Homo sapiens: one gene and its partners. The protein of the gene in region 2 interacts with the protein of the main gene of each other region in a pairwise test. Each region holds a gene or a part of one and is shown on either strand. Other genes may lie near its edges.

Region 1 (4,683 bases), on a different chromosome or scaffold from region 2:
CGGTGGCTCATGCCTGTAATCCCAGAACTTTGGGAGGCCGAGGTGGGCGGATCACCTAAGGTCAGGAGTTCGAGACCAGCTTGACCAATATGATGAAACCCCATCTCTACTAAAAATACAAAAATTAACCAAGTGTGGTGGCATGCGCCTGTAATCCCAGCCACTTGGGAGGCTGAGACAGGAGAATCGCTAGAACCTGGGAGGTGGAAGTTGCAGTGAGCCCACATGGTGCCAGCCTGGGCAACAAGAGTGAAACCCCATCTAAAAAAAAAAAGCAAGGCGCCATTGGGAAGGGGAAGTGGGGCCTGCATGGCTGAATTCAGAGAAGGAAGGGAGTCTTGGTTATCAGATTATCTCTGCAGCTGATCTCCAAACCTATTTCCCTTCTTCCTGGCACAGGGGCCACTCATTTCCCAGACTCTTTTGCATGGAGGCATGGTTGTGTGATTGAAATCCAGCCAGGCGAGCAGGCTCAGCCCACAGAAACCTCCCATGGGCCACCCCCATGCCTTTTCTTCCTCTGGTTTGTGTGGAATGGTGCTGAGCCCCCAGGGCGACTTTGGTGGAATCTGGTGTTGAAATCAGAGTCCCACCGCCGGGCGCGGTGGCTCACGCCTGTAATCCCAGCACTTTGGGAGGCCGAGGCAGGCGGATCATGAGGTGAGGAGATCGAGACCATCCTGGCTAACACGGTGAAACCCCGTCTCTACTGAAAATACAAAAAATTAGCCGGGCGTGGTGGCAGGCGCCTGTGGTCCCAGCTACTCCGGAGGCGGAGGCAGGAGACTGGTGTGAACCCGGGAGGCAGAGCTTGCAGTGAGCCGAGATCGTGCCACTGCACTCCAGCCTAGGCGACACAGTGAGACTCCGTCTCAAAAAAAAAAAAAAAAAAAAGAATAAGCAAATCATGCAAATCATCCTGTTCTAAACTCTGAACCGCTGCTTCCAAGACCGTCCCTGCCCTTGCCCTGGCCGCCTCTCTCCTTGTTAACTGGGCTCCATTCATTCTTTCCATTTCTCTAACACGTGCCAGGTGGTCTCATCTCCTGGCCTTTGCCCTTGCTGTTCCCTGTCATCATTCAGGTCTCACTTGTCATTTCCTGACCATGGTACTTATAAAAGCAGTGCCGTCTGCCCCATCCATGTCACCTCGTTCATCTCCTTCACCTCCGAAATGATCTCGCTTTTGGGTTTACGGCCGGTCTCTTCACCTGGAGCATCAGCCGGGAAGGTCAGGGTCGCCCTGGCTCGGGCCTGTTCACATTGGGGTCAAAGGCACACATTGGGGGCTCAACCAAGGCGAGCTGCGTTCGCGGGGCCGGGTCTTTCCGCACAGGCGGAGGGCGGTGGCGGGCGCGGAGGCGTCGCGCGAGCCAGGGGGCAGCCACGGGCCGGGGGTACCTAGCGCCACCCGCTTCGCTTGCATCAGCTGCGCGCCCCATCCCGAGGAATGGTAGAGGCAGCCCCGCCCCCGGCCCGCCCCCGCCTTTCCATTGGCTGCCGCGCGGGGCGGGGAGCGGGGTCGGCTCAGTGGCCCTGAGACCCTAGCTCTGCTCTCGGTCCGCTCGCTGTCCGCTAGCCCGCTGCGATGTTGCGCGCTGCCGCCCGCTTCGGGCCCCGCCTGGGCCGCCGCCTCTTGTCAGCCGCCGCCACCCAGGCCGTGCCTGCCCCCAACCAGCAGCCCGAGGTCTTCTGCAACCAGGTGAGCCCACCGGCCGGGCTCGCGCTTTGTTTTCCGGCCCGAGTCCCCCGCAGGCCCCTAGGAAGGCCCCGCGCCGCCGTGGGCCTTAGTGTACTCATCTGGGGCTCGAGGGGTTTGCAGAGGCTGACCTGGAAGCACATCTGCCCCCTCCTCTCCTGCAAGCATTTTAGCCCCTTCGCCGCCTCTGACAGTCCCCGTCCCATTTCCCCGTGACTTGGGCCCCCTCTCCGTCTTCGCCCAGCCTCGGTCTGTTTTCCAGGGCCAACTCTCGGGGTTCCGTTCTCCCCATGGTCCTTGCTTTCGGGTCTCCGCAGGGTCCCCACCCTCACCCACTCAGAAGACGCGACCAAGTCCCTCTTTGCAGGAACTTTCCTGTCTTTTCCTTAGTCATCCCCTTTACCCCCTGACTCATGCCCTCATCCAAGGAGTTCAAAAGGAAAAACCAGGAAAGAGGTGATTTGCAGCCACGTTCTCCAGTTCACCATGGGCGAGGCCACGCTCGGCTGCTTCCATTGCTGGGAGTAGGGAATCCTGGAGGACCTTCGGCCCCAGGGGGCCGACCCCAAGGGGTGTCTGCGGCTTCCAACGCCGGCTTCGACCAAACCAAGGAGGAGCTTTCCAGGATAAAACTGATTCCTGTGGTCCATTTATTGATTGCTCAATCAGTAATACTTTGGAATATTTTTTGTTTTGATCTTTGAGTTTGGTTAAAGTTCTAGACTTCACAGAGGCTGAAATTGGTTATGAAAGAGTTTGTTTTGTTTGTGCCAGTGCATGTTGGCTGCCTTCTCTGACTTAAGCTTTTTCTCCTATAAATGGAAAGGCGCTCTGAGGGTTAGGTTCACACAGGCCCTCATCAACCAGTCACTTCATAGTTAATCACAGCTCCTGTCCTGTCTGCACAGCCTTTGTGCAGCACTGTTCTAAGCGTCTACCTGTTTTGCAATTTAAGGTAATTTTTACAACAGCCTCAGTAGGAAGGGACTGTAATTCTCCATTTTACAGATGAAGAGACTGAGTCACAAAGAGGTTTAGTGACTCACCTAAAGACCAAAGTCAGTGGCATAGTTGGGGTTCACAGCTGAACTTCCAGGAGTAAGCCCCTAACCAGAACATTCCATGGTATGTTGTGACTCTGGGTGGGAACAAAGGGACCACCGATCCTCTGGGACTATTGCTGATTTGGGATGCTGTAGAGCTGGCTCCTAGCCAGCTGCTTTCAACAGCACACCTGCTGGTCTGGCCCTGAGTGTGGCTGCAAATCTGGATATAGGTGATGGGTAAAGGCACATGCGTGTGATTTTAGGGGATGTTACAAAGGTCATTTGCAAGGGAATTTTTAAAAGGATAAAATAAAATCTTTTGCATAACACAAGCTAAAAAGGCAGCAGCTATGGCTCCCTTGGCAGCCTGTGCAAGTTCATGCTTGGAAGACTTGAGCATCAAAAGATCTAGCAGAGGCCAGGTGCAGTAGCTCATGCCTGTAAATCCCAGCATTTTGGGAGGCCGAGGTGGGATGATCCGTTGAGCCTAGGATTTCGAGACCAGCCTGGGCAACATAGCAAGACCCTGTCTCTAGTCTCTACTAAAAAAGTAAATTAGTTAGGTGCGGTGGCACATGCCTGTAGTCCCAGCTATATGGGAGGCTGAGGTGGGATGATCCCTTGAGCCTAGGATTTCGAGACCAGCCTGGGCAACATAGCAAGACCCTGTGTCTAGTCTCTACTAAAAAAGTAAATTAGTCAGGTGCGGTGGCACATGCCTGTAGTCCCAGCTATATGGGAGGCCGAGGTGGGAGGATCACTTGAGCCTAGGAGTTCGAGGCTGCAGTGAGCTATGATTGGGCCACTACACTTAGTCTGAGCAACAGAACAAGACCCTGTCTCAGAAATGTCCTCAAGGAACAGCCATCGCCCTAGGAACCCTTCTGGCCACAGGATCTGATTAAAATCTTTATCCTTTATCACATGCAGATGAGGCAGCTGGGTCCAGATATGCACCCAGGCCCATAGGTAACACATCCTGTTCTCCAGATTTACTCTGTGGGTGTAGGCTGGAGGAGCCGAGTCAATTCCCTGTGGCTGCTTTTCTTTATCAGACTTTTTGAGATCATTAAAGTAACACATGCCCACTGTATAAAATTGCAGAGGACTGACTTACAACTCTCTGGACATGGTCAGTCAAGGTGATTCATGCCTGTAATTCCAGCACTTTGGGATGCCAAGGTGGGAAGATCGCTTGAGATTAGATGTAAGGCTGCAGTGAACTATGATTGTGCCACTGCACTCCAGCCTGGGCAATGGAGCAAGAACCCATCTCTTAAAAAATAAATAAATAAATAAACCTCTCTGGATACCCCATTTTACTCCCTCCAAGAGCACTGTGAACAGGTGGGTGTGTCTCTTGTAGACATTTTGTTTGCATTTACAAGTGCCTGCAGCAAGAGAGAGAGAGAGAGAATGCAAGCACACCAGACTTTTTTTTTTTTTTAACATAAATGAGATGCAACCACTTATATTCTGAAGCTCGCCGTCTCACTGAACAATGTACCTGGGTTATCATTCTGAGTACGTTCAGATCTCATTTAACCCTTTCCAAGGACCACAGAGCATTCTACTCTGGTGGCGCCGTGCTGGAACTGGACCTCTTAGAGCCCCCTGGGCTGTTTGCAGTGTGGCCTTATTGCTGACTCAGCAGGGAAGAGGGATGGTGCATACAGCAGTGGACTCTGCACCTCAGCTGCCTCATCTGTAAAATGGGGTAAAATGGCTGGGTGCAGTGGCTCACACCTGTAATCCCAGCATTTTGCAAGACTGAAGCAGGCGGATCACGAGGTCAGGAGTTCGAGACTAGCCTGGCCAACATAGTGAAACCCTGTCTCTACTGAAAATACAAAAATTAGCTGGGCATGGTGGCGCGCACCTGTAATCCCAGCTACTTGGGAGGCTGAGGCAGGAGCATCACTTGAACCTGGGAGGCAG
Region 2 (4,014 bases):
GAGTAATACCCTGTCTGAAAAACAAAACAAAAAAACAAACGTTGTTGGCCGGACGCAGAGGCTTATACCTGTAATCCGATCACTTTGGGAGATTGATACGGGTGGATCACTTGAGGTCAGGAGTTCGAGACCATCCTGGCCAACATGGTGAAACTCCGTCTCTACAAAAAATATAAAAATTAGCTGGGCATGGTGGTGGGTGCCCGTAATCCCAGCTACTTGGGAGGTTAAGGCAGGAGAATCACTTGAACCTGGAAAGCAGAGGTTGCAGTGAGCCAAGATCGCGCTGCTACACTCCAGCCTGGGTGACAGAGGGAGGCTCCGTTTCAAAAAAAAAAACAAGAACAAAAACAAAAGACAACAAACAACAAACGTTGTGAAGAACTGACAGCAAAGTGCTGCCCACCTTAGGGGTCACTGCTGTCATCCCCAGGCAAACTGGGGCTGGATTTTTGTTCTAGCCTGTGAGGCTGGGGTCTTTTCTGATTCTGCGCCAGGAGTCGAAACCTGTCTCCAATCCAGGATGAGAAGCCTGGCTTTCTGCCCCAAGGTACCTGCAGGCCTGAGCATCTCAGGCTGGGCAAGGCAGCCCATGCTGCTGACACCCAATCCCTTGGGCTGTCAGCCTGCCCCAGGCCCTCAGATACAAAGAGATACCATTTCCCCAGCCGGGAGCGCTGCCAGCCAGGCCTGTCTAGGCAGACCTACCCGTGGAGAAAGCGAAGACAACCCCTGTGGGAGGTGGGGAGCTCAGCACCAGCCCTACAGTCAGCTCCCCAAGAAGCGCCCCAGCCTTGGGGAAGGACAGGCCCCGAGGGGTTTCCCCTATGGACCAACTTGTTCTACCAGCAGGGGGCCCTCAGACTCAGGTGGGAAGTAGGACTCATGGAAATGTGGCCTCAGCTTCCATACCTGCCCCCTACAGACAAAAATAATAATAAAATAAATAATAATCCTTGCCTGAAGCTTCTGATCAACCTTCATGGCCTGGCAATAGCTCCCTTGTCCCTCCTAGAGGAAACTTGGCTCCTGGCCTGGGGATTCCCATCTCTCTGACTTCACTTGCTCTGGGCAGTTGGCTCTGTGCCCTTGGTAAGGCTTGACCTCTTCTCTCTTCCTTGCTTTGCCTCTGTTTCACTCAGTTGCCTCATGCAGGCCTTCTCAGGGGGCTCTTTCTGCAAAAGCAAGACTGGGTTCGAGAGCAGCCCTGCTGGGTCTGTGGCCCTTACCCATGTTCCATGTCCTGTCCTGGCCAGGGATCCAAGAGCCAACAGCATATCAGGCAGAAATTAGGCACCATGGGTGCAGTGGCTCATGCCTATAATCTCAGCAACTCAGGAGGCTGAGGCGGGAGGATTGCTTGAGCCCAGGAGTTCAAGACCAGCCATGGCAACATAGTGAGACCCTCTCTCTAAAAAAAAAAAGAGAAAGAAGTGAGACTCCAGCCCATGAGGTCAGGTGTTTCCTGACCTGGGGTGGAGGCTTCCCCAGCTCCCAGACTCCCTGTTCCATAGCAGGCGCTTTCTTTGCCCCACTGGTACTGGTTACAGCCTGGTCCCCAAGCCATGCCAGGCTCCAGGTTTCTCTCTGCCTTCTAAACAGTTCTGTCCGAACTTCTCCCTTCAACTCTCCTTTGCCCCTGCCATTCCCAAGAACCACAAGGAATCTTAACTACCCCTCTTTCTCCACATCTCCAGGAGCTGGTGGGGTCTCTCACTATGGAATAGGTTTGCCATAGCCCTGTTTTCTTCCGCAAACTCAGAGGCATATAGAGAAGCCAAAGCTGGACAGGGACTTTGTCAAACCTAGACCCTAACTGCGGCACAACCAGTGGCACATGCTCTGGGTGCTGCGGGGGAGGTACAGGAACCAGAGGACTCCCCCGCCCTTTGGGAGCTGAGGCTCGCTACAGAGATGAGCCAATGGCAGTGCAGGGCTGTGCACTGCAATCTGACTGCCCTGGAAAGACATTTCAAGGAAAGGCATTTAATAAAAAGAAGTCCCGAGTCTTGCACTTTAAAGACATCCACTGCCTATGCAGGATATGCTGCAGTGGGAGCAGGTCGGTGGCCCACAGGAAACGGCTCTGGGACTGTGTTGACTTCAGTCAGCACATGATGTTACTGATGCATTTGGAGCTGTGTCAACGAACCCAGGGTGTCAACATGAGGGAGGGCCACGCCTTGCTAGCCTCAGTCTGGGCCAGATCACATGCTCTTGGCTCTGGGCCTGGGTACACCAGAGTACTTCCAGAAGTCAGTGGCCAGGGGTGAAAGGTTAGGAGAGGCTGGAGCTGTTTAGCCAGGAGATGAGAAGATTCAGAAGAAGGTCAACAAGTCCCCAGGTACCTAAAGGGCTTTCAAATGAAAGATTAGACAAGATTCCACAGACCTAACCAAGCCCAGCAAAGACGAAATTCAAGACAGAGAATTTTCATGCACAGATGGCAGACAGTTCAGAGTGATTGGTGGTTAAGCTGCCCAAAGCACTATGCCACAAAGGATTCTGGGCTTGTGTCTAGGCTCATCGGGGAAGTATGTCATAATCAGTCATCACCATCTGCCGGGTGCTGACTGGGAGGTCATGCCATGAGTGTGATGTCTTTGCCACCTGCTTGAAAGTCAGCATTAGAAAGATCTTCCAAACCATTCAGGCTTTTTGAAGGTGAGCAGGTGGTCTGTATTAAGTCATTTCCCAGGACCCAAATACTCCTGTAGACCAGAGGTTCTTGATATTTTTCATGCCATGGGACTCTTTGACAGTCTGGCACAGCCTATGGACCTCTTCTTACAGTAATGTTTTAAAACGTGTAAATAAGACCAAGGATTGGGCCAGGCACGGTGGCTCACGCCTGTAATTCCAGCACGTTGGGAGGCTGAGGAGGGTGGTTCACAAGGTCAGGAGATTGAGACCATCCTGGCTAACACGGTGAAACACCGTCTCTACTAAAAATACAAAAAAAAATTAGCCAGGCGTGGTGTCGGGCGCCTGTAGTCCCAGCTGCTCAGGAGGCTGAGGCAGGAGAATGGCGTGAACCCGGGAGACGGAGCTTGCAGTGAGCCGAGATCTTGCCACTGCACTCCAGCCTGGGCGACAGAGCGAGACTCCATTAAGAAAAAAAAAAAAAAAAGACCAAGGATTACAAAAGAAGTCAATTAAATTGAAATACAGTTATCAAACACTTAAAAAAGCAAATTCGTGATATAGAATATATATAGATATGCTTTTTTTTTTTTTTTCTGAGACAGGATCTTGCTCCATCACCTAGGCTGGAGTGCAGTGGTGCAATATCGGCTCACTGCAGCCTCTGTCCCCCAGGTTCAAGTGAGTCTCATGCCTCAGCCTCCTGAGTAGCTGGGATTACAGGCTTGTACCACCACGCCCGGCTAATTTTTGTATTTTTAGTAGAGACGGGGTTTCACCATGTTGGCCAGGCGGTCTCGAACTCCAGACGTCAAGTGATCCACCCACCTCAGCCTCCCAAAGTGTCGGGATTACAGGCGTGAGCCACTGCGCCCAGCTATATAGAAATGCTTTCTACTACATTGTTATAAGTGGGTCTGACTACTGTAATGTTCATGAGTGATGAGTGTAAATGATACCTCACGATATATACAATGACTGTAATGTGATCATGAGAGTATCTGTGATTTCTGTGCATTACAGAGGCACAGACACAGTGACTTGAGGAAATGCCAAGTTAAAACTCCTTGAGGTGAAGACTGACCCCTTTGAGAGGGAGCCCCACTCTGGGGCCGGGTCACCCAGGTCTGGGCCTCTTGACATTGAGAGGTGTGAGCCTCTTCACTAGCACCAGGGTAGGATGCTGACAGGGTCTGACCTTCCCTCTCTCTCCTACAGATGGGCGGACAATTTCATGGCCGAGGGCTGTGGAGGGAGCAAGGAGCACAGCTTCCAGCATCCCTTCCTCCAGGTATCTGGCCCTGTCCCTCCTACCTCCTGTCTCCCGGGCCTCAGACCAGGCGCCACCCCCGGCCATGAGGCCAGGCTGTT
Region 3 (4,014 bases), on a different chromosome or scaffold from region 2:
TGGTTTGGAGCTTAGAATTCAGAGATACCAGCATCACAATGCAGGCCCCTTGCAGTCTGGCCCCCAGTCATCTCTGTACTTTATCTTGTCCTCTTTGTCCCCTTTCCACACTGTCCAGCTAAACAAGACTGCTCTTGGTTCTCTGAACATGCCAAGCTATTTCAGACCTTCTTTGCTTATATTCTTTTCTCTTATTGGAATGTCCTGTCTCACTCCCACTCCCTCCAGTTCTTAAAAGTTCATATCAAATATTCTGTTCTCTCTGGAGTCCTTTGGAAGTCCTATTACAATGAATTATTCCTTTCCTCAATCATAGTTCTCTATTTTTCCTTCATTATTGTCTATATCATGTTGTATTATAAATTGGTCATAGTAAACTCTGGCTGTGGTGTCTATCCTATCATTTTGCCCCCAACACCTTGCTCAGGCGTTTAAACATAAGTGCTTAATGTTAAATGTAAGTGTTTAAATGTTTGCTAAATAAAGTCAAAGTCTGTAATCAACCTTAAAGAGTATGTTAATATTATAAAGTATATTTATTTTTATTTTTTCTGACCCTGGCTTAAGTCTGCAAATAAAGTTTGTTTGTTTTTGAGACAGCATCTTGCTTTGTCACCCAGGCTTGGAGTGCGGTGGTGTGATCGTGGCTCACTGTAGCCTCAACCTCCCAGGCTCAAGTGATCCTCCCACCTCAGCCTCCTGAGTAGCTGGGACCACGGGCATGCACCACCATGCTCAGCTAATTAAAACAATTTGTTTTTTTGTAGAAACGGGTCTCCCTGTGTTGCCCAGGCTGATCTCGAACTCCTGGGCTCAAGCAATCCTCCCACCTCAACCTCCCAAAGTGCTGGGATTACAAGCATGAGCCACCGCACAAGACCCAGATGAAGTATTTTTAATAAACATCGGTGCCCACAACAACATTAGAAATGTAGTTTTACTATGTTGAATATAGTTACTATTTAGAATATTTCTTTACAGTTATTTTTGGTCTTTCACATAATCACATAAGTGGTATTTTATACAAAGTAAAAACTGTCATCTTTCCCATTTGTATCTAAACTTGTAGGGTCTAATGAAATAGATGAAGTGCCTGCATTGCTGACTGTGAATCACCGACCCATTTTTTGGGCAGAGGGAACCAGAGCACAAGGTTAAAAATATTCCTTGTATTGGCCGGGCGCGGTGGCTCACGCCTGTAATTCCAGCACCTTGGGAGGCCGAGGCGGGCGGATCATGAGGTCAAGAGAGTGAGACCATCCTGGCCAACATGGTGAAACCCCATCTCTACTAAAAATACAAAAATTATCCGGGCATGGTGGAGCACGCCTATAGTCCCAGCTACTTGGGAGGCTGAGGCAGTAGAATCTCTTGAACCCGGGAGGTGGAGGTTGCAGTGAACCAAGATCACACCACTGGACTCCAGCCTGGCGACAGAGCAAGGCTCTCTCAAAAAAAAAAAAAAAAAAAAAAAATCCTTATATTTGAAGTATAATTTAATTCCCAAGAGATTACATGCTTTTTCTTTAAAAGTTTTCTTTTTTAGAAATTTATTATATGCATCAAAAGCAATTGCGTTTGAGGGGGCTTCTTAAAAGAATATTAGAACTGGATTTGAAAGACTCAGGTTTGCTTCTTGGCCGTGAACAAGTTTGTTAAATCCCTTTGGAAGTCAGTCAGTCTTTATTTGGGAACTGAGAACGGTTATTCCTGTTGCTTTGTAGTACATTTAAAGAGGCTATGCTTTGTGTACTGCACATCCTTACACAGATACAAGGTAATCAGATGTTTTGCTTTATAGCATTTTTGTCCTACTTGTTACCCAGCCTGGAAACCTTTAGAGACTTCCTTTCTTGACCAGATTTTTACCAGGTTTGCCTCCATGAGTCTTTTCCATCAGTCTTTTTCTTTACTCTTTCATGTTTCCTCTGCCCCTACCCTCCCTGAAGCTCTTACTCCTTATGAAGATAGTTACTGTAGTCCTCCAACTGGCCTCTCTTTTTTCTGGTCTCTCCTCCTCTGTTCTGTTGCCAGAATTATTTAATAGGCAAATCAAATCATATCATGACCCATTTCCCAAGTATACACCAGAGGTTCTCAACATTTCCCTCTATTCCATCACACCTGAGGGATACGACAGTTTTGTTGGTAAGGTTATGGGCTTTCTCCTCCCAAGATTTTTACCTTGGAAGTGCTACCACACTCCTCCCCTGGTTGAGAATTAATGTTAAAGAGTTAGGAAATCACTGTAAGATCTTTGCTATCTAGCCTCATTCTTACTTTTAGCTTAATCTTTTATTGGATCTCTTCTTTTTCGTTTTTGTGTTTTTGAGACAGGGTCTTACTCTGTCACTCATGCTGGAGTGCAGCGGTGCCATCTTGGCTCACTGCAACTTCCACCTCCCTTCCTCCTGCTGCCTTGGCCTCCTGAGTAGCTGGGACTACAGGCACATAACGCCTGGCTAATTTTTTGTAGAGATGGGGTTTTGCTCTGTTGCCTAGACTGGCTTCAAACTCCTGGGCTCAAGTAATCTGCCCGCCTTGGCCTCCGAAAGTGCCGAGATTATAAGCACGAGCCACCACGCCCAGCCTGCATCTCTTCTTGTCACCTTATATTTCAACACAAGACCTCTGGCCACTTCCGTTATTGGCAGACTACTCTGAAATATCCTTTCCACCTTTCTCTCTCTTTCTGAGTCTTGGAGTCTTGGCTTAAATGCTGCTACTTCTATTTCTGTAACCTGATTTTCAGAATTAACTCATTATTTTTCTCCCACACAGTGCTAGCCTGATACCTCTACTTATCTATTTTTTCCTTATGACTTTTTAGTTTATATACATGAAGGTCTTTCCTGGATTATAAACTCCTTGAGAGATGTAGAGGAAAATCTTAATCATTTCTGATTTCCTCTAGTGTGCAATATAGTCTTTTACATAGTACTCATTTGTTAAATGTTTGACTGAATTAACTCAAAATTTACAGTCTCTGATTTCAGGAGGAGGAGGATAGAGTTGGAATAACTTTGTATGAGAACTTAGTGAATCCACGTGACACACTCAGAACAGGGCCCAGCATATAGTAAGTGCTCAGTAAGTGGCAGCTTTTAGCTATTAATTTGAATAGGTGGAGACGACACTAGTGGTTGGATACACTGGTTAATTGTATATGCTAGTTTATTATGACAGTGTTCACATATTTATTTCTGGTGTGTGTGTAAAGAAAAAAATCTCATTTTCTTTCTTTTTTTTTTATTTTTATTTTGAGACAGAATCTCGCTCTGTCGCCCAGGCTCGAGTGCAGTGGCGCGATCTCGGCTCACTGCCAACTCCACCTCCTGGGTTCACGCCATTCTCCTGCCTCAGCTTCCCGAGTAGCTGGGACTACAGGCGCCCGACCACAACGCCCGGCTAATTTTTTGTATTTTTAGTAGAGACTGGGTTTCACCGTGTTAGCCAGGATGGTTTTTATCTCCTGACCTCGTGGTCTGCCCGCTTTGGCCTCCCAAAGTGCTGGGATTACAGGACTGAGCCACCATGCCCGGCCTTTTCTTTTTTTTTTTTTCCCGAGACTGAGTTTTACTCTGTCACCCAGGTTGGAGTATAGTGGCGTGATCTTGGCTTACTGCAACCTCTGTCTCGTGGGTTCAAGTGATTCTCCTGCCTCAGACTCCCCAGTAGCTGGGATTACAGGTGCGTGCCACCATGCCCGGCTAATTTTTTATTTTTTAATAGAGACGGGGTTTCACCATGTTGGCCAGGTTGGTCTTGAACTCCTGACCTCATGATCTTCCTGCCTCGGCCTCCCAAAGTGCTGGGATTACAGGTGTGAGCCACCGTGCCTGGCCAGTCATCTCATTTTCAACTTGCATCTACGTTCTTTCATTAATTTTGTGACTGAGTTGGAGAGGGCTTTTGCATAAACAGATTCATGATGGTGGTCCTAAATTATTCTGAAGACAGGCAAACCTGTCTGTAGATGAGCAGGTTTTTTGCATATGGCTTAAGAAAGTCTGG
Region 4 (4,014 bases), on a different chromosome or scaffold from region 2:
TAGAGACTATGTTGCCTAGGCTGGTCTTTAACTCCTCGGCTCAAGCGATCCTCCCATCTTGGCCTCCCAAGGTGCTGGAATTACAGATGTGAGCTATCACGCCTGGCCATTTTTTTTTTCTTGAGACTGGGCCTTTCTTTGTCTCCCAGGTTGGAGTACAGTGGCACAATCTCAGCTCACTGCAGCCTCAACTTCCGGGCTCAAGCAATCCTCCCACCTCAGTCTCCTGAGTAGCTGGGACTGCAGATGCATACCACTACACCCAGCTAATTTTTCAATTTTTTTTAGTGATGGAGTCTTGCTCTGTTGCCCAGGCTGGTCTCAAACTCCTGGGCTCACGTGATCCTTTGACCTCAGCCTCCCAAAGTGCTGAGATTATAGGCATAAGCCAAGGATTCTCACTCTTAATGCATTCTCTTTTCTTTGGACAGATCTGTGGTTTTTCTACTTGAAGGACACAATGTTTTCCAAACTAGCACATTTGCAGAGGTTTGCTGTACTTAGTCGCGGAGTTCATTCTTCAGTGGCTTCTGCTACATCTGTTGCAACTAAAAAAACAGTCCAAGGCCCTCCAACCTCTGATGACATTTTTGAAAGGGAATATAAGTATGGTGCACACAACTACCATCCTTTACCTGTAGCCCTGGAGAGAGGAAAAGGTACGTTTCAAATTAATCCGTCTTTTCCCTTTTCTTGAAACCTTTTATAAAAAAAAATTGCTTCCATATTTTCACAATATACATTTTTCTAGATGTGTTTAATGTGTATATTGCAGACATGGTTAATTCTTCTTCTTCTTTTTTTTTTTTTTTTTTTGAGACGGAGTCTCACTCTGTCACCCAGGCTGGAGTACAGTGGCACAATCCCAGCTCACTGCAACCTCTGCCTCCCAGGTTCAAGCGATTCTTCTGCCTCAGCCTCCTGAGTAGCTGGGACTACAGGCGTGCGCCACCACACCCAGCTAATTTTTGTATTTTTAGTAGAGATGGGGTTTCACCATGTTGGCCAGGCTGGTCTCAGACTCCTGACTTTGTGATCCTCCCACCTTGGCCTCCCAAAGTGCTGGGATTACAGGTGTGAGCCACCACGCCTGGCCAGTTAATTCATTTATTGAGTGTCTAGTGCTGCTGTGTTAGGTGCTATGGAGGCTTCAAAGAGGAACCATTGTCTTTGTCATGTAGACCTTACCAAGAGGGAATGCAAGAGAAATAAGGAAAGTACTATCATATTGCTGTCATTTTTTTCTTTTAACTTTTATTTTGGCATAGTTTTAGACTTAAGAAAAGTTGTAACAAATAGTACTGACATTTTCCTTTTATACTTCTCCCAGATTTTCCAAGTGCTAACTTTTTGCTGCTTTGGTCTTAGTGTGTTCACTCCCTTCTCTTCTCCCCCCGCCGCCTGCATATTCTACATTGTTTTCTGAACTGTTTTGAGAGGAAGTTGCAGACATGACATCTCTTCTTCTTTTTTTTTTTTTTTTTTTTTTTTTGAGACGGAATGTCGCTTTGTCACCCAGGCTGGAGTGCAATGGTGGGATCTCGGCTCACTGCAACCTCTACCTCTCGGTTTCAAGTGATTCTCTTGCCTCAGCCTCCCGAGGAGCTGGGACTACAGGCCCACGCCACCACGTCCAGCTAATTTTTGTATTTTTAGTAGAGACAGGGTTTCATCATGTTGGCCGGGCTGGTCTCGAACTCCTGACCTCAGGTGATCCACCCACCTCAGCCTCCCAAAGTGCTGGATTACAGGCGTGAGCCACCGCGCCCCGCCACATGACATCTCTTTACCCATAAATACTTAGTGTGTCTTTCCAAAAACGCAATGACTTTTTGAGATAGGGTCTCATTCTGTTGCCCAGGCTGGAGTTCAGTGGTGTGATCATGGCTCACTGCAGCCTGGAACTCCCGGCTTCAGGTGATTTTCCCACCTCAGCTTCCCAAGTAGCTGGGACTACAGGTGTGCCTTACCATGCCTGGCTTATTTTTTGTAGAGATTAGATTTTGCTATGTTGCCCAGGGTGATCTTGAACTCCTGGTCTCAAGTGATCCTACCACTCAGCCTCCCACAGTGCTGGGATTGCAGGTGTGAGCTACTGTGCCCAGCTGACTTTCTCTTTTATAACCATAGAGTAATTGTAAAAATCAAGAACTTAACACTGGTACAGCACCATTAGTCTAGAGACCTAATCCAGATGTCATTTGTTCTCTTTTATAACAAAAGAAAAACCTCCGATGAGTTGCATTCAGTTGTCATGTTTAGTCTTCTTTAACCCAGAACAGTTCCTCAATCCTTGGTTGTCTTGGTCTTCTTTCCCTTTGTATTAAGTATCTTGTGGGGACAGAGTGTAAAACTCTGTAAATATCCAGTTACTCATGAACTTTTACTCACAATTTCAGCATCCACTAATGATTCTTGCCTGAATAAATGATTACGGTGGTAGTTGCCAAATGGTGATTTAATCTACAATTTGGAATAAATAACAGCCTTAACCAAATAAAACCAAAGTTTATTACTTAGCTTTGTACCAGAAAATGACAATATAAGAGTATCACACATTTTGGTCATTTGCTTGTATTTTATTTGGTACCAGTACTGTAGACATATCTTCTTTTGAACTATTGAAAATCTGTTTCATATTACATGACATGGCAACCTTGTTTTTACTTTCCCACTAGCAATGTATGAGAGTGCCAATTTCTTCAGATCCTTGTCAAAAGTTGTTTTTTTAATTATAACCATCCCAGGGAGTATGAGATGGTATCTCATTGTGGTTTTAACTTGCATTTTCCTAATGATTAGTGATGTTGAACATCTTTTCATGTGTTTCTTGCCATTTGTATATCTTCTTTGAAGAAATAGCTATTCAAGTCTTTCCCCATTTTTTAAATTGGGTTGTTTGTCCTTTTGAAATTGAGTTGTAAGAATTCTGGATATTAGATCCTTATCAGACACATGATTTACAAATATTTTTTTTCCATCCTAAGGGTTATTACAGTCTACTTCTCATGATTTTTGTCTGTTATGTGTAACTTCTGCTTTTTTATTTTTAAATTTTATTTATTTTATTTTTTTTTTTTATAGGCAGGATTTTGCTCTGGTGCCCAGGCTGGAGTGCAGTGGCACAATCTCAACTCACTGCATCCTCTACCTCCCAGGCTCAAGCAATCCTCCCACCTCAGCCTCTGTAACGGGACCATACGCGCGCACTACCATGCCCAGCATTTTTCTGTAGCGTCAGGGATTTTGCCGTGTTGTCCAGGCTGATCTGGAACTCCTGGGCTCAAGCAATCCCTGCCTTGGTCTCCCAAAGTGCTAGGATTACAGGCGTGAGCCACGGCTCCCTGCCTAACTTCTGCTTTTAAATTCTAATTTTGGATCCTAAATCTTAGAATTAGGTAAAGGTTTTACTCCAGAGTTTATAACCTTTTTGTGTTATTTTTGTTAAATGTGTGTTTTGAAGCTGGGCAGATAAAATACAATTCTTAGTAATTCCTTACAAACCAAAGTTTATTATGCCTGAGCTAAAACAAGCTTTAACTACAAATATGTATTAAATAGAGGTTCATATATAGGCATTCAGAGGGCTTGCTAGCACTCTTAATTTTTGGACTTTATGCCGTATAGTAATTGTCTAAAATTATTTTCCTTTCTTATGTATTTTAGGTATTTACTTATGGGATGTAGAAGGCAGAAAATATTTTGACTTCCTGAGTTCTTACAGTGCTGTCAACCAAGGGCATTGTCACCCCAAGATTGTGAATGCTCTGAAGAGTCAAGTGGACAAATTGACCTTAACATCTAGAGCTTTCTATAATAACGTACTTGGTGAATATGAGGAGTATATTACTAAACTTTTCAACTACCACAAAGTTCTTCCTATGAATACAGGTAAAACATTTCCTTTTTTTGTTAAATACCCTCAAAAATAATCTTTTTATTTTTTGATAGTTTAACATTTTAAAAAAATCTGAACATTTTTCTCTCCTGATAGGAGTGGAGGCTGGAGAGACT
Region 5 (4,014 bases), on a different chromosome or scaffold from region 2:
AGTTTCAAAAAAAAAAGATCTAGAATTAGAAATACCATTTGACCCAGCAATCCCATTACTGGGTATATACCCAAAGGATTATAAATCATGCTGCTGTAAAGACGCATGCACACATATGTTTATTGCAGCACTATTCACAATAGCTAAGACTTGGAACCAACTCAAATGTCCATCAATGATAGACTGGATTAAGAAAATGTGGCACATACACACCGTGGAATACTACGCAGCCGTAAAAAAGGATGAGTTCATGTACTTTGCAGGGAGATGGATGAAGCTGGAAACCATCATTCTAAGCAAACTATCAAAAGGACAGAAAACCAAACGCCGCATGTTCTCACTCATAGGTGGGAGTTGAACAATGAGAACACTTGGACACAGGGCGGGTAACATCACACACCAGGGCCTGTCGGGGGTAGGGGGCTGGGGGAGGGATAGCATTAGGAGATATACCTAATGTAAAGGACGGGTTGATGGGTACAGCAAACCAACATGGCACATGTATACCTATGTATCAAACCTGCATGTTGTGTACATGTACCCTAGAACTTAAAGTATAATTTTAAAAAATTTAAAAAAAAAGAACATCAACTTTATGGTACAACTGAGTCTGAATTCGAAGACATTTATGTCTTCAGGTCTGGTTTTTGGAAAACAAGTTTCTTGCGTAGTCACAGAATTCTATTTTTCAAAGCTGAGAGTGGATACAAATGGTATAGGTTGAGCTGGGGAGCTGGGTGTTGGTATTGAAGTCTGTGGCCCTGGCTTTGTTTTCATCGACTTGGGTGAGTACCTGAGGAGGCCAGCATCGGGGAATGGAACGATTCAGGAGCTCAGCTGCTGAAGCTGCGAAAGGCACAACTCTCAGACCTGCTTCCTGGTAGTGTGAATGCAAGTCTGGTAGATGTTTCATTCGGGCACCAGTTGTCATCTTTTAGAGGTGCCTTTTTAGTATTGCCTTCTGTCTCTAAGACAGGGACCACCAAGGCGTCTGGGTGCCAGGTAGGAAACTCACCATCAGTCAGTCTGAGTTTGAGAACCTGGAGGCAGAAATCACCAAGACATTAGACCCACAGATTGCCTGCAAATCCACCAAACCCCTGGGCCGAAAAATCCGTCCTGAGTCTCTAGCATATCAGTGATCATAAAGAAGCACTCTCTGTTTCAGAAGCTTTTGAATGCTAGTGGGTCTGTAGTGAAAATTACACATACACTCGTATGTGGTCGAGGGGAAATCTGGGCCTGATGAAACGTTTGAAGGCTAAATGTTTCATTCTTTTTAAAAATATGTATATTATTTTTGAAATGGGGTCCTTGTTGTGTTGCCCAGGCTGGTCCTGAACTCCTGGGCTCAAGTGATCCTCCCCTCTTGACCTCTCAAAGTGCTGGGGTTACAGAAATGAGCCACTGTGTCCAGCCTGATGGCTGAATGTTTTGTTCCAGCAATAGCCTCAGTAGCAGGTTGCAAGGCTCTGTCCCATACATGCTGGTAGTTGGCTTCAATTTAAGTAAATGCAAAGGCAGATATATTTTTGACAGATTATTCCTTCTCTTGTGTTAATAACAATGAGCTCATCTCCTTGGTTAGTTTGACTAGAACATGCCCTTTTCTTTTCTTCAGGCCAGACAATGCAGTGCCAGGGGACGTGCTGGTGCTGACAAAACCCCTGGGGACACAGGTGGCAGTGGCTGTGCACCAGTGGCTGGATATCGTGAGTAAACCACTGCTGTGATGGGAGGGAGGGGAATGGTACGTTTGCAGGTAATTTTTGTTGGAGGATTTGGGAAATGAGGTTTTTTAGTTTCATATCCAGGGAGTTAATATTAGTCAAGTCCTTAAAGAAATCCTAGGAATTGTTCATAGTCTTTAAATAACAGTTTTGCATATTGAATGCTTGATTGCAGTAGGTAAGCCCCAGCTTGGAGCTTTAAGATTTTTCTGTAAAGAATTTGCTCGGCAGGGGGTTAGCTTTGTTTACTTGGCCCTGAGATAGCTTCGTCTTTCATGTCTTAAACATCACTAAGAAATAATATGAAGGAGAATTGGTGGAAGGCGTAGTGTTTGGGGTATAAATAAAACCAGGGTTATTGACAGTTTAAATTGTTTTATGCAGTTTTTGGTTGTTTTTGTTTGGTAGTTTTGTCTTTTTAAACTGATGAGTAACTCAGAACATTTTGATAAATAATTCTCTTGTGCAGAATGAATCTATCTATAATGAGGATATGTCTTGTGAGTCATTTTTCCAGTGAGCTATAATCATACTTTAAGATTGGTTTTCTTCATTGCCGTAACAACTCACAAATTAATAAGATTGGGGTATATTCTCACATATCATGGTGCATTTAATTTCTACAACTATCATCTGAAACTACCAGTCCTGAGAAACAGTTGAAAGAGAATAATCAATAATTACACGTCTTTCATCAACCTGGTATATCTTAGCTTGATGTCGCAGGGTAGAGAAATTCTCTAAGGCTGCCACGTTCTTTAGCAGTTTTTCCCTCCTCCCCCTGTGATGGGGAGCAGAGCAGAAGGCCACTGCGGGGATGTTGCGCAGAGGTGCCTTCCAGCCCCACCTCCCAGGCCTGAGCTAGCAGGGAGCTGGAAGCAGGTGAGGCAGGGAGTGTCACGGATGGGGGAGCCCTTCTCCACTAGCAGGACACTACACTGCATGTACAGCAGTGCCGCCGTGTGTCCCGCTAGACTACACATACCCAATAAATCACAGCACTTAATTACAGAAATGTGGGATGAGAACAGAAAAGACGCCATGCTGACAGGTCTAATGGACACCTAAAATACTATCCACAGAAAAACCAGAGTTGGAAAATTCAGTTTTCTGAATTAAAGTCCCTAGAAGTTAAATAAGAAAAAGTTGCTGTTTTTCTCAGTTGCTAGAAGTAAAGATTAATCACATTTTCCTCTCTTTCTCTCCCTCACCTACATTTCTATTATCAGCCTGAGAAATGGAATAAGATTAAACTAGTGGTCACCCAAGAAGATGTAGAGCTGGCCTACCAGGAGGCGATGATGAACATGGCGAGGCTCAACAGGACAGGTATGACAGGTGGGAAGGGCGCTTCGGTCCCAGGGGTCCAAGACAGTAAATGTCTTAGGCTTTTCTGGCCACATACTGTCTCAGGGTAGGTGGCCAGATTTTTGGCCAGTGACTACAGACCGTCTTCTCCTGGTACCAGGTTGGCATTCCATAGATCACTGCAGATGGTCCCTGACTTACAGTGCTTTATAATTAAGAAGGAAGTCCTAACTTCTGACATACCAGAGGAACTATTTCTAGAAAGCGTTTGTGTGGGTTACCTATGTAAGATTTGGAAGCAAACCATTCAGAATGGAAATTTAGAAAGTTTAAGATACTGGAGCTATTTCCAGAACATAACCTTGGAAGTCTAGAAGTGCCCCCACTCCCACCCATCCCCTGCATTCCTGCTTAGGTGTAACCACTGAATTTTGTGTTTATTTTCTTGCATTTTAGAATATTTTTATTGCACAGCCCTTGTGTTCTTAAGCAGCAAATTAGTTTTGCATTTTTTTTACTTGTTTTGTTCACCATTGTTCCTGAGAGTCTCCTTGTTATATGTAGCTGTAGTAGATTCCTTTTGGCTGTGTTGATTTTTCCACTGGCTTCTCTGCTCTCCTGTTTCACACTGGGGCGACTGCTATGGACTTCCTTGGCCCAGCCCTCTGAGGCACGTGTAAGAGATCAGTACTGGCTCAGCTTTTATAGATAGTGCCAAACTGTCTTCCAAAGTGTTCACCACAGTTTACAATGGCACACTATGTTTAGAAAGCGTTTTTTAATATGTCTTCTCTTCCCATTTATTTTATACATTTTTTCTACTATAAAAGAATTACATGCTTATTATAGAAAAGTTTTTAGAAAATGGAAAATAGTACAGAAAAAAGTTGTCCATAGTCCCTCCACCCAAAACAGCTCCGGCTAGCATTTTTATGTATTCTTCCAGGACTTTTTTTCATGTTTGGCTGGTGATTTA
Region 6 (4,014 bases), on a different chromosome or scaffold from region 2:
TTCCCCTCATAGGACATGTAACCTCACCCACACTTCTACCCAGATTTCAAAATTCCAAGAAATGAAAACTATCTCCTTAAACAAAGAGAACTTTAGGTTTAATAATTCTTCAGATAAAGTATCTCATGCCCGGAGAGCATGAGAAACTAGACTAAGGCACAGATCTAGGAGTAGAAATAAAATGGAGGTCCAAACATGGATCGACTATTATGGAACACCTGATAAAACTCAGAGAGTTACAACAAAAGACACTCACGTGTGTCATTCAAATCCTCACAAGAGTCCTTCAGGATAGTGTCATTATCCTTATTTTACAGATAAGGAAACTGGGGATGAATGAGGGAAAGTATCCTGCCTACGGCCAGCTCATCAATATCAGAACTGGGCTTCCAATGAATATTAGATAAAACTGATATGTTTTGGGAGTTTATCACATGCCTCCCCCTATGCTGAGTCCATTATATGTGTCATCTTATCCAACCTGTACCACAAACCTATGAAGTGGTGAAAATACCTTGCCCAGGGTGAGTTTAGCAGTAACTGGTGGATATGGGATCTGAACACACGACTGGACTCCAAGACATATGGTCAGATGTGCAACTAGATGCCTAGGCATTGGACTCCCATCCCAGTGCACTTTTCCATCTCCCTCACTAGGAAGAGATTCTAGGTGTCATTTCCAATTTTTACATGTTCTTCACTCCACCCAAGAGAGGCCAGAACCATTCCTAAAGCACCAACACATTGAGGCAAAATGTCAGGCAGCAGAGCTGTGGCACCTTTCAAGGATGACAAGCCTTTAACTAAACTCTGGCCTTCAGTAGGGAGAATGTTGAGCTGAAAACAAATCTGGGCAACATTTCAGGTGCTGAGCCTTGTTGCTGACACCACAGAGGCCCAGCAATGCTGCTGAGTTAGTGGTGGCAGACAACTTGCTCCTGGAATCTACAAGGGAACTGGAAATGTTAGGAAGGAAGAAAGGAAGGAAGAGGAAGAGGAGGAGAATTAACATGGCATAGAGAAAAAAATATCACAAGCGTCTGAGCCAGACAAGTCTCAATCCAGTCATGTAAACACAGGCTGTTAATATTTGCTACCATATATTGAACACATTCTAAGTGCCAGGCTAAGTACTTTATGTGACTATTTCATTCAATAAAAGTCACTTGAGCTTATTAGCCCCAGGTTTCTAATGTATAAAATTGATTTAATAACATGTAAGTTACAGGGTTGTTATAAGGATTAGAGCTGCAATGGTCTAATGCTTGGAATTCAGCAGGAGTTAAGTAAATGTTTACATTACTAATTACGAAGCCAATATAAGCAAGGAGGAAGATTCCGGATGGGACAGGCCATCTCGCTATAGGAAAGGAAAGTGGAACAGCATTCATCCTCAACATTTTTACGAAGACAAAATGAAGACTGGAGTAGAAGACTGATCAGTGCAGGTGTAGCATAAAAGTGTAATCCTGGAAGATGTGGTGTGAGAAGGTAGCACAAGTGAAGCAGAGATACAGGAGATAGGGAAGGGAAGCTGGAAGCAGAGGTCACTGGAGGGAGAGGGAGATGGACACATTCAGGGCTACAAAGCAAGTTCTATGTGATTTGCTCACCTCTCAATTGTGGGACCCCTCAAAATGTGTACAGTACTCTCCCAGTGACATGCTTCTTGACCACAATGGATGAACTGTGCCCAGCATGCCCACTTTCCAATGCTCCACTGATCCCCATGTTTTGTTTCTGAAGGACAACCAGCCTTGGAATAATGGCAAATACCTTCTTAAGTTCCTACAAAGTATGGTCCCTGGGAAGTTTATGTCTGTAAGTCAAACCTTGGGAAGTAACTGAGTTTTGATGCCTCTTCCAGCATCATCAGCATCATGCTATTACAATCCCAAACCATGGGGGTTTCTCACAGCTTTACACCAAAGGGCATCACTATCCCTCAAAGAGAGAAACCTGGACACATGTACCAAAACGAAGATTACCTGCAGAACGGGCTGCCAACAGAAACCACCGTTCTTGGGGTAAGTCCACCTCATTATAAGGGGAATACTGAGAAAATACTTTGTAAATGTATCTAGACTACAGATCTACAGTGGGTCTGGGAAACTCTTTCACTCTTTTCTGGCTGACTCCAGGCTAATGAGGACATGAAATGGAGCTTTAAGGGAAGACTCTTAAAGCTCTGCAGCAGTTTCTAGAAACTAAAACCACTAGATCTTTTTCACTAGCATGCTTCACAATTAACAGGTTAGTCTTTCTTATTTTATTTATTTATATATTTATTTATTTTGAGACAGAATCTCCCTCTGTCACCCAGCATGGAGTGCAGTGGCACGATCTCAGCTCACTGCAACCTCCGCCTCCTGGGTTCAAGTGATTCTTCTGCCTCAGCCTCCCGAGTAGCTGGGACTATGGGTGCACGCCACCACGCCCGGCTAATTTTTGTATTCTTAGTAGAGATGGGGTTTCACCATACTGGCCAGGCTGGTCTTGAACTCCTGACCTTGTGATCTGCCCGCCTTGGCCTCCCAAAGTGCTGGGATTACAGGCATGAGCCACTGTGCCCAGCCACAAATTAGTCTTTCTTATTTTGTCATTAGTACAGTAAAAATTTTCTATTTAACCATATGGATTTTACTCAATATGATTAAATTAACTTTGAGCTTATTTTTCAAATATTTTGAGATGAGACGATCAAGACTAATCTCATGACCCATTTTTCCCCGTTCATATGAGTAACTATAAGACATCCAAGTGTCCCAGATCATCATCCCTCATATCCAGAACTTTAATCTCCATGTGGTTTTGAATACCCTCTTATAATACCCAGGTCCTATTCACTGCCTATTTAGATGGATCTCCCTGCCCTGTTTCTTTACAATCTATTCTTAGTACAGCAGGTAGGGTACTCTTTTAAAAATGAAAGTTAGATCATGTATTCTCCTGGCTCAAAATTATCCAGTGGGATTCCTTTTTTGCTCAAAATGAAAAGCAAAGTTGGTAAAACATAGCCTAAAAATCCCTACATAGTTTGTACCATGCCTCCAGTACTTCACAAGCCTCATGTCCTACTACTTTGCTCTTAACTCTATTCTGCCTTGCATGGAACTTGTCTGTACCTTTACAGACAAGACATAGTACACATATAAGCTCTCCAATGGTAGTGATTTTCATTTGCTTCATTCCCTCGTGCCTGGCACACAACATACCTGTTGTGGTATTCAATAACTGTTGATGATGTGAATGGTTGACTTCTTTTTTTATTTCTCCTATGTTTGCATCATCTTTCAATTGCACATGCATTAAACTATGAGCAAAAGCATGGGCTTTAGAGCAAGCTAACAGCTAAACTTCAGTTCTTCCACTTGCGAAATAATTATTATTAAAATCCAATGATGAACAAAATAAGATGAATTACAGCAGAAGAGATGACCTGCTCTATCTAATTTCAACTGAAAAATCTCTTCATTAACACTCCTGTGAAAAGTTTGCTCTCTATTTCCACCTCACTGGACAACTTTTTTATCTACTTTTCAAGAAAATAAATTTAAAAACTGTCAAGTATCTTTTTCAAAAAAAGTTAAAATGTGTGTATGATCACTTTCCGATTTGCTGGTTTAATAATCCTATCAGAAAAGAAGAGGTTAGCTATACATGACTTTCTCTAGAAGCATATCGATTGGCTCCTTGTAACATTTTTCCTCTTTAATATAACAAATTATAATGTATTTTATACTCTTTATACTTTACCGTGTGCATTCAAATAATCACTTTTATCTGTTTGAAGTGCAGTCTAGATTTCCTGTCTTCTCTCTTGTAGACTGTCCAGATCCTGTGTTGCCTGTTGATTTCAAGTCTGGGGGCCATCTTGGTTTTTGCTCCCTACCCCTCCCACTTCAATCCAGCAATTTCCACCACTTTGATGTCTGGGTACCCATTTTTAGGAGCTCTGTGTGTGAGTAGAATGGGGACTCTAAGAGGGGACATGCTTTATAAATGCTAACCAGG
Region 7 (4,014 bases), on a different chromosome or scaffold from region 2:
GAAGGATACCAGTAATAACCTAGGTGATTGATTTCCTTCTGTTTCATCATAGACCATGTGATGAAATTATTGCTATAAAATATGAACGTTGCAGTTGATTTTTAGAAGAATTTATAGTAGAATGTTTCCACATTGTCTCTGAGTTAAAATCTCTGGTGTTTTCAAATTTTAGCTGTATTGTGACATTCGAACTAATAAAGATTCCCTGAAACTTAAATCCATTTTGTTGTGCCTTCTGTATGTCTGGTGCCGTGTCAGGTGTGCAAAGCTGGATGAGAGAGGTATTTCCCTTCAGGTGCTTTTTGTGCACTTGTAGGTAGCAGAGAAATGACATGTGTGTAATAAAACATGACAGACACAAATATGAATTTTAAATTCTTTATTACATACTGCCTGGTACTGTCACTATTGGTGAATGGACTTCATCATGCCTGCTAAACTAGAAGTTTCTTGAGGATCAGGAGTATGAGTAGCCATCATCATATTGTATGTCCCTGCCCTGTGTGTGTATTTTGAAGATTACGTTGTTAATAGAAGGAGATACATGTTTGTTTATTTCACTTCAAGAGCTTAGCTAGTGGATGAAGGAAACCTTTTTGAAATCTGATTCTTGATGCCTAAAATTTCAACTTTGTATTCTGGCTGTGGGCATGCAAATTACAAGCAGTGACACTTTCTCAAGCATGATTACAGCTTCTAACCAATTCAAACAATAAAGATAATGGTGGACTGCCTTCACTTGAGTAGACACGATATTTGCTCTTGTCACATGACTACCACTTTGGGAAATTTCAAAAGGATGAGAGACTGTATACGTATCTGAGGTTTTTCCAGGCTACATAGACAAATTTGATTTTTGTATTATTAACCAGTCAATCTTTTCTTTAGAAGACAGATGGAGTTTGTGTATTTGTGTAGTTGTGAAAAAGCAAGATTCTGGAAGTATGTCTTTAGTGGAAAGGAATCAGGTCACATCAGAAATTCTACTTGTCTGTGACTAAAGGGTGATAAAATAGAGAATTTGGTTTAAATGGCTGGTTTTGTGGGTTGAAGCATGCTATGGATCCCATTAAATGTTTTTAAAAAAAAACTCAATAGGGTGATTTCTGGGGTAGTGGAGATGTGCCTTTGTGTGGGAGTCAATAATGAAAATGTTTAAAATTTCACCAAAAAGTACAGCACAGAAGTTTGGCTGTTGGTTACTTTCACCATCCATTAATAAAAAATACTGAAAACCAGACGGTGTGTTAAGGACAGAGTTTTCTTAGGACATATGTGGATGATTTCAGCATTGAATTGTGCTTAGCACAAGATAGACATCTGTGTGTAGACATTGGCCCATGGTATGTTTTTGTTTTTTAACTCACTAGGTGAGAACTTAAGTCTTACTTAAAAGCAGTAAAAAAATTTGTTTCCATTAATAAAATGGTTCCAAAGAATCAGGTGTTAACGTTCCCGCTCCTGATAAATTACAAGTATTTTCACTGTGAGACAGAAGAGTTTTGATCAGAATCAGTTACGTTTTCTTGAGATTGGGATTGGTACAACACTTAAAGAGTACGGACTCTGGATGCAGGCAGCCTGTGTTCAGCATCATGGCTGTGCTTTTAATTAATGGCATGGCCTTAAATATTAAATAGCTTTCTCACTGCCCTGAGCCCCAGTTTCCTCATCTGTACTAGGGAGTTAATACTACTACTACGTTACAGGGTTGCTGTGAGAATTAGCATAAAGCACTTAGAACTTTAGTTAAAAGCTTTAAAAAGTATTAGCAGGTGCTAGTAGCAGTGGCACTGGATATTATTTTAAAGGTGAACTGTTGGACCACTTGGATGCTTTGTTTCTTTGGTTGGGAGGCTTTCTACTAGAGCATTGAAATTCTTTCTTTCTTTCTGTTCACTGACTATTGGACTCATCTCTGCTGTTAGGCTTTAGGAGGGGGAAGTACTTTTTTTAAGTTTTGAATTGTCACACAGGCATCTGGTTATCACTGATGGCAGATGGACTAAGTAAAGAGAGACATCTCTGTTTCTTGGAAAAGGAAGGCCGACAAAGCCTGGGCTGGCACCATGTTGCAGCTATTGAAATACTATTTCCCTGTGGACTTGACTTGTTTAGCTGTATGATACTTCTGAATAAAAGGAATAAACCCCAATGGTTTCATTTAACAGAATTAGGCTTTCGTTAGAAGGCACTATTTTTTACTTGTATAACCTTAGTTGATGGTAAACTTGAAGCTTGTTAGTATCAGTGTAAAGCCATGTGTTGTGAGCTTTCTGTGCCACTATGAATGTTCTAATAGTAGCTTTTTTTTGTAATTTTAGAAGTAGCTAAAATTGCTGCTCTGCCCCAGTAATTCAGGTGGCTCAAGAATGACTTCGTAGGATAGCAAAATTATTTGTTTATGGTAAAGCTAAAAACAAATACTGAAGCTACCTAATCAGGAAAATAATTTGATAATTATAGTTTTGTTTAGGCTGCTGCTGAAATAATAGCTAACTTTAAAAAGTTAAGTCCAAATGTTTTAGTTTAGTTGTGTGGACATTGGAAACTGCTGACTAAAAATAAATGTTTCTGCCTAAACAAAGTGAATTGCAGACTGTTCTTTCCTATTCTGGCTAATAACCAGGTCTTAGTTTTTAGTTGAAATCCATTTTTATAAAATATATACTATAGAGGTTTATATAAAATATATTATTAAAAGCATATTTTGCTTTAAATGTGCAGGGTAAAGTGTTATAATTCCTTCTTCCATGTTGTGCTGGTTTTGTTTATTTGTTTCAGCTGGTTTTTATAAGCTTCCACACACTAAGGAGGTTGGCAAATATGCTTGTATTTAGAGGTGTGACTTTTGTTTTCCTGTTTAAGAGAGGAAATGATCATGACTGTTGCACCAAATAGATAGAGATATATATTTCCTTTAGTTTTAGATACCCTGAGGACTGTGCTGGGAAATTTTTTTTTTGTTTGAGACAGAGTCTCACTCTGTCACCCAGACTGGAGTGCGGTGGTGGCATCTCAGCTCATTGCAACTTCGGCTTCCCAGGTTCAAGTGATTCTTGTGCCTCAGACACCCAAGTAGTTGGGATTACAGGCATGCGCCACCACGCCTAGCTAATTTTTATATTTTTAGTAGATGCAGGGTTTCCCCATGTTGGCCAGGCTAGCCTCGAACTTCTGACCTCAAGTGATCTGCCTGTCTCAGCCTCCCGGAGTGCTGGGATTATGGGCAATGGGCACGAGCCACCATGCCTGGCCTGTGTTAGGAAATTTTTAGGAAAACAGGTTGCCATGGTATCAGTACTATAGTCCACAATAAAACTTGCCTGTTTTGAGACAAAGTTCTGTCTAACACATTGTTAATTTTTCTCTAGTGTTCTTTCTTTCTTTCTTTCTTTTTGTTTTGTTTTGGAGATGGAGTCTCACTCTGTCGCCCAGGCTGGAGTGCAGTGGCGCGATCTCGGCTCACTGCAACCTCCATCTTCTGGGTTCAAGCAATTCTCCTGCCTCAGCCTCCCGAGTAACTGGGATTACAGGCACCCACCACCACACCTGGCCATTTTTTTGTATTTTTAGTAGAGATGGGGTTTTACCACATTGACCAGGCTGGTCTTGAACTTCTGACCTCAGGTGGTCCCTCTGCCTCAGCCTCCCAAAGTGTTGGAATTACAGGCGTGAGCCATTGCACCTGGCCACCTAGTGTTCTTTCTATCACACTCTTTTTCAGGGACAGATGTTGCTGTCTTTCAGATATGAACATAATAAAGTCAATGTGTAACCCAAAAGTGCAAATATGAAGATGGAGATTTGATTTATGACTGTGGACAACATTTATAGGGCCTGTTACTGTTTGAAACTCAGTTAATGAACTTGAAGCTTTTGTGGAACAAGAACCACCCCATCCTTTTTAATTTGTCAGATGCTTCTGGTGAGCCGCAAGCGTTTTTCCTCTCACCTACTTATGGCTGCAGTGTGTTCCTTGGGCATTTCCAGTGACTTGTGTACATGTACAAC

The links.
Region 1: the proteins of SLC35F6 (region 2) and ALDH2 interact in a two-hybrid assay, tested with the Homo sapiens proteins (one large-scale study listed by BioGRID and IntAct).
Region 3: the proteins of SLC35F6 (region 2) and KIAA0232 interact in a two-hybrid assay, tested with the Homo sapiens proteins (one large-scale study listed by BioGRID and IntAct).
Region 4: the proteins of SLC35F6 (region 2) and OAT interact in a two-hybrid assay, tested with the Homo sapiens proteins (one large-scale study listed by BioGRID and IntAct).
Region 5: the proteins of SLC35F6 (region 2) and SEPHS1 interact in a two-hybrid assay, tested with the Homo sapiens proteins (one large-scale study listed by BioGRID and IntAct).
Region 6: the proteins of SLC35F6 (region 2) and MS4A7 interact in a two-hybrid assay, tested with the Homo sapiens proteins (one large-scale study listed by BioGRID and IntAct).
Region 7: the proteins of SLC35F6 (region 2) and TBPL1 interact in a two-hybrid assay, tested with the Homo sapiens proteins (one large-scale study listed by IntAct).

Annotation. Positions count from the first base shown.
Region 1 is NC_000012.12:111,765,395-111,770,077, forward strand, and holds the start of ALDH2 (aldehyde dehydrogenase, mitochondrial isoform 1 precursor), read left to right. Parts: upstream 1-1,538; 5' UTR 1,539-1,588; coding exon 1,589-1,702; intron 1,703-4,683. UniProt on the Homo sapiens protein: Required for clearance of cellular formaldehyde, a cytotoxic and carcinogenic metabolite that induces DNA damage.
Region 2 is NC_000002.12:26,770,390-26,774,403, forward strand, and holds part of SLC35F6 (solute carrier family 35 member F6 precursor), read left to right. Parts: intron 1-3,861; coding exon 3,862-3,934; intron 3,935-4,014. UniProt on the Homo sapiens protein: Involved in the maintenance of mitochondrial membrane potential in pancreatic ductal adenocarcinoma (PDAC) cells. Promotes pancreatic ductal adenocarcinoma (PDAC) cell growth. May play a role as a nucleotide-sugar transporter.
Region 3 is NC_000004.12:6,785,727-6,789,740, forward strand, and holds part of KIAA0232 (uncharacterized protein KIAA0232), read left to right. Parts: intron 1-4,014.
Region 4 is NC_000010.11:124,408,618-124,412,631, reverse strand, and holds part of OAT (ornithine aminotransferase, mitochondrial isoform 1 precursor), read left to right. Parts: intron 1-431; 5' UTR 432-460; coding exon 461-659; intron 660-3,666; coding exon 3,667-3,891; intron 3,892-3,994; coding exon 3,995-4,014. UniProt on the Homo sapiens protein: Catalyzes the reversible interconversion of L-ornithine and 2-oxoglutarate to L-glutamate semialdehyde and L-glutamate.
Region 5 is NC_000010.11:13,327,396-13,331,409, reverse strand, and holds part of SEPHS1 (selenide, water dikinase 1), read left to right. Parts: intron 1-1,621; coding exon 1,622-1,712; intron 1,713-2,959; coding exon 2,960-3,059; intron 3,060-4,014. UniProt on the Homo sapiens protein: Synthesizes selenophosphate from selenide and ATP.
Region 6 is NC_000011.10:60,381,262-60,385,275, forward strand, and holds part of MS4A7 (membrane-spanning 4-domains subfamily A member 7), read left to right. Parts: intron 1-1,867; 5' UTR 1,868-1,880; coding exon 1,881-2,027; intron 2,028-3,826; coding exon 3,827-3,961; intron 3,962-4,014. UniProt on the Homo sapiens protein: May be involved in signal transduction as a component of a multimeric receptor complex.
Region 7 is NC_000006.12:133,956,089-133,960,102, forward strand, and holds part of TBPL1 (TATA box-binding protein-like 1), read left to right. Parts: intron 1-4,014. UniProt on the Homo sapiens protein: Part of a specialized transcription system that mediates the transcription of most ribosomal proteins through the 5'-TCT-3' motif which is a core promoter element at these genes. Seems to also mediate the transcription of NF1. Does not bind the TATA box.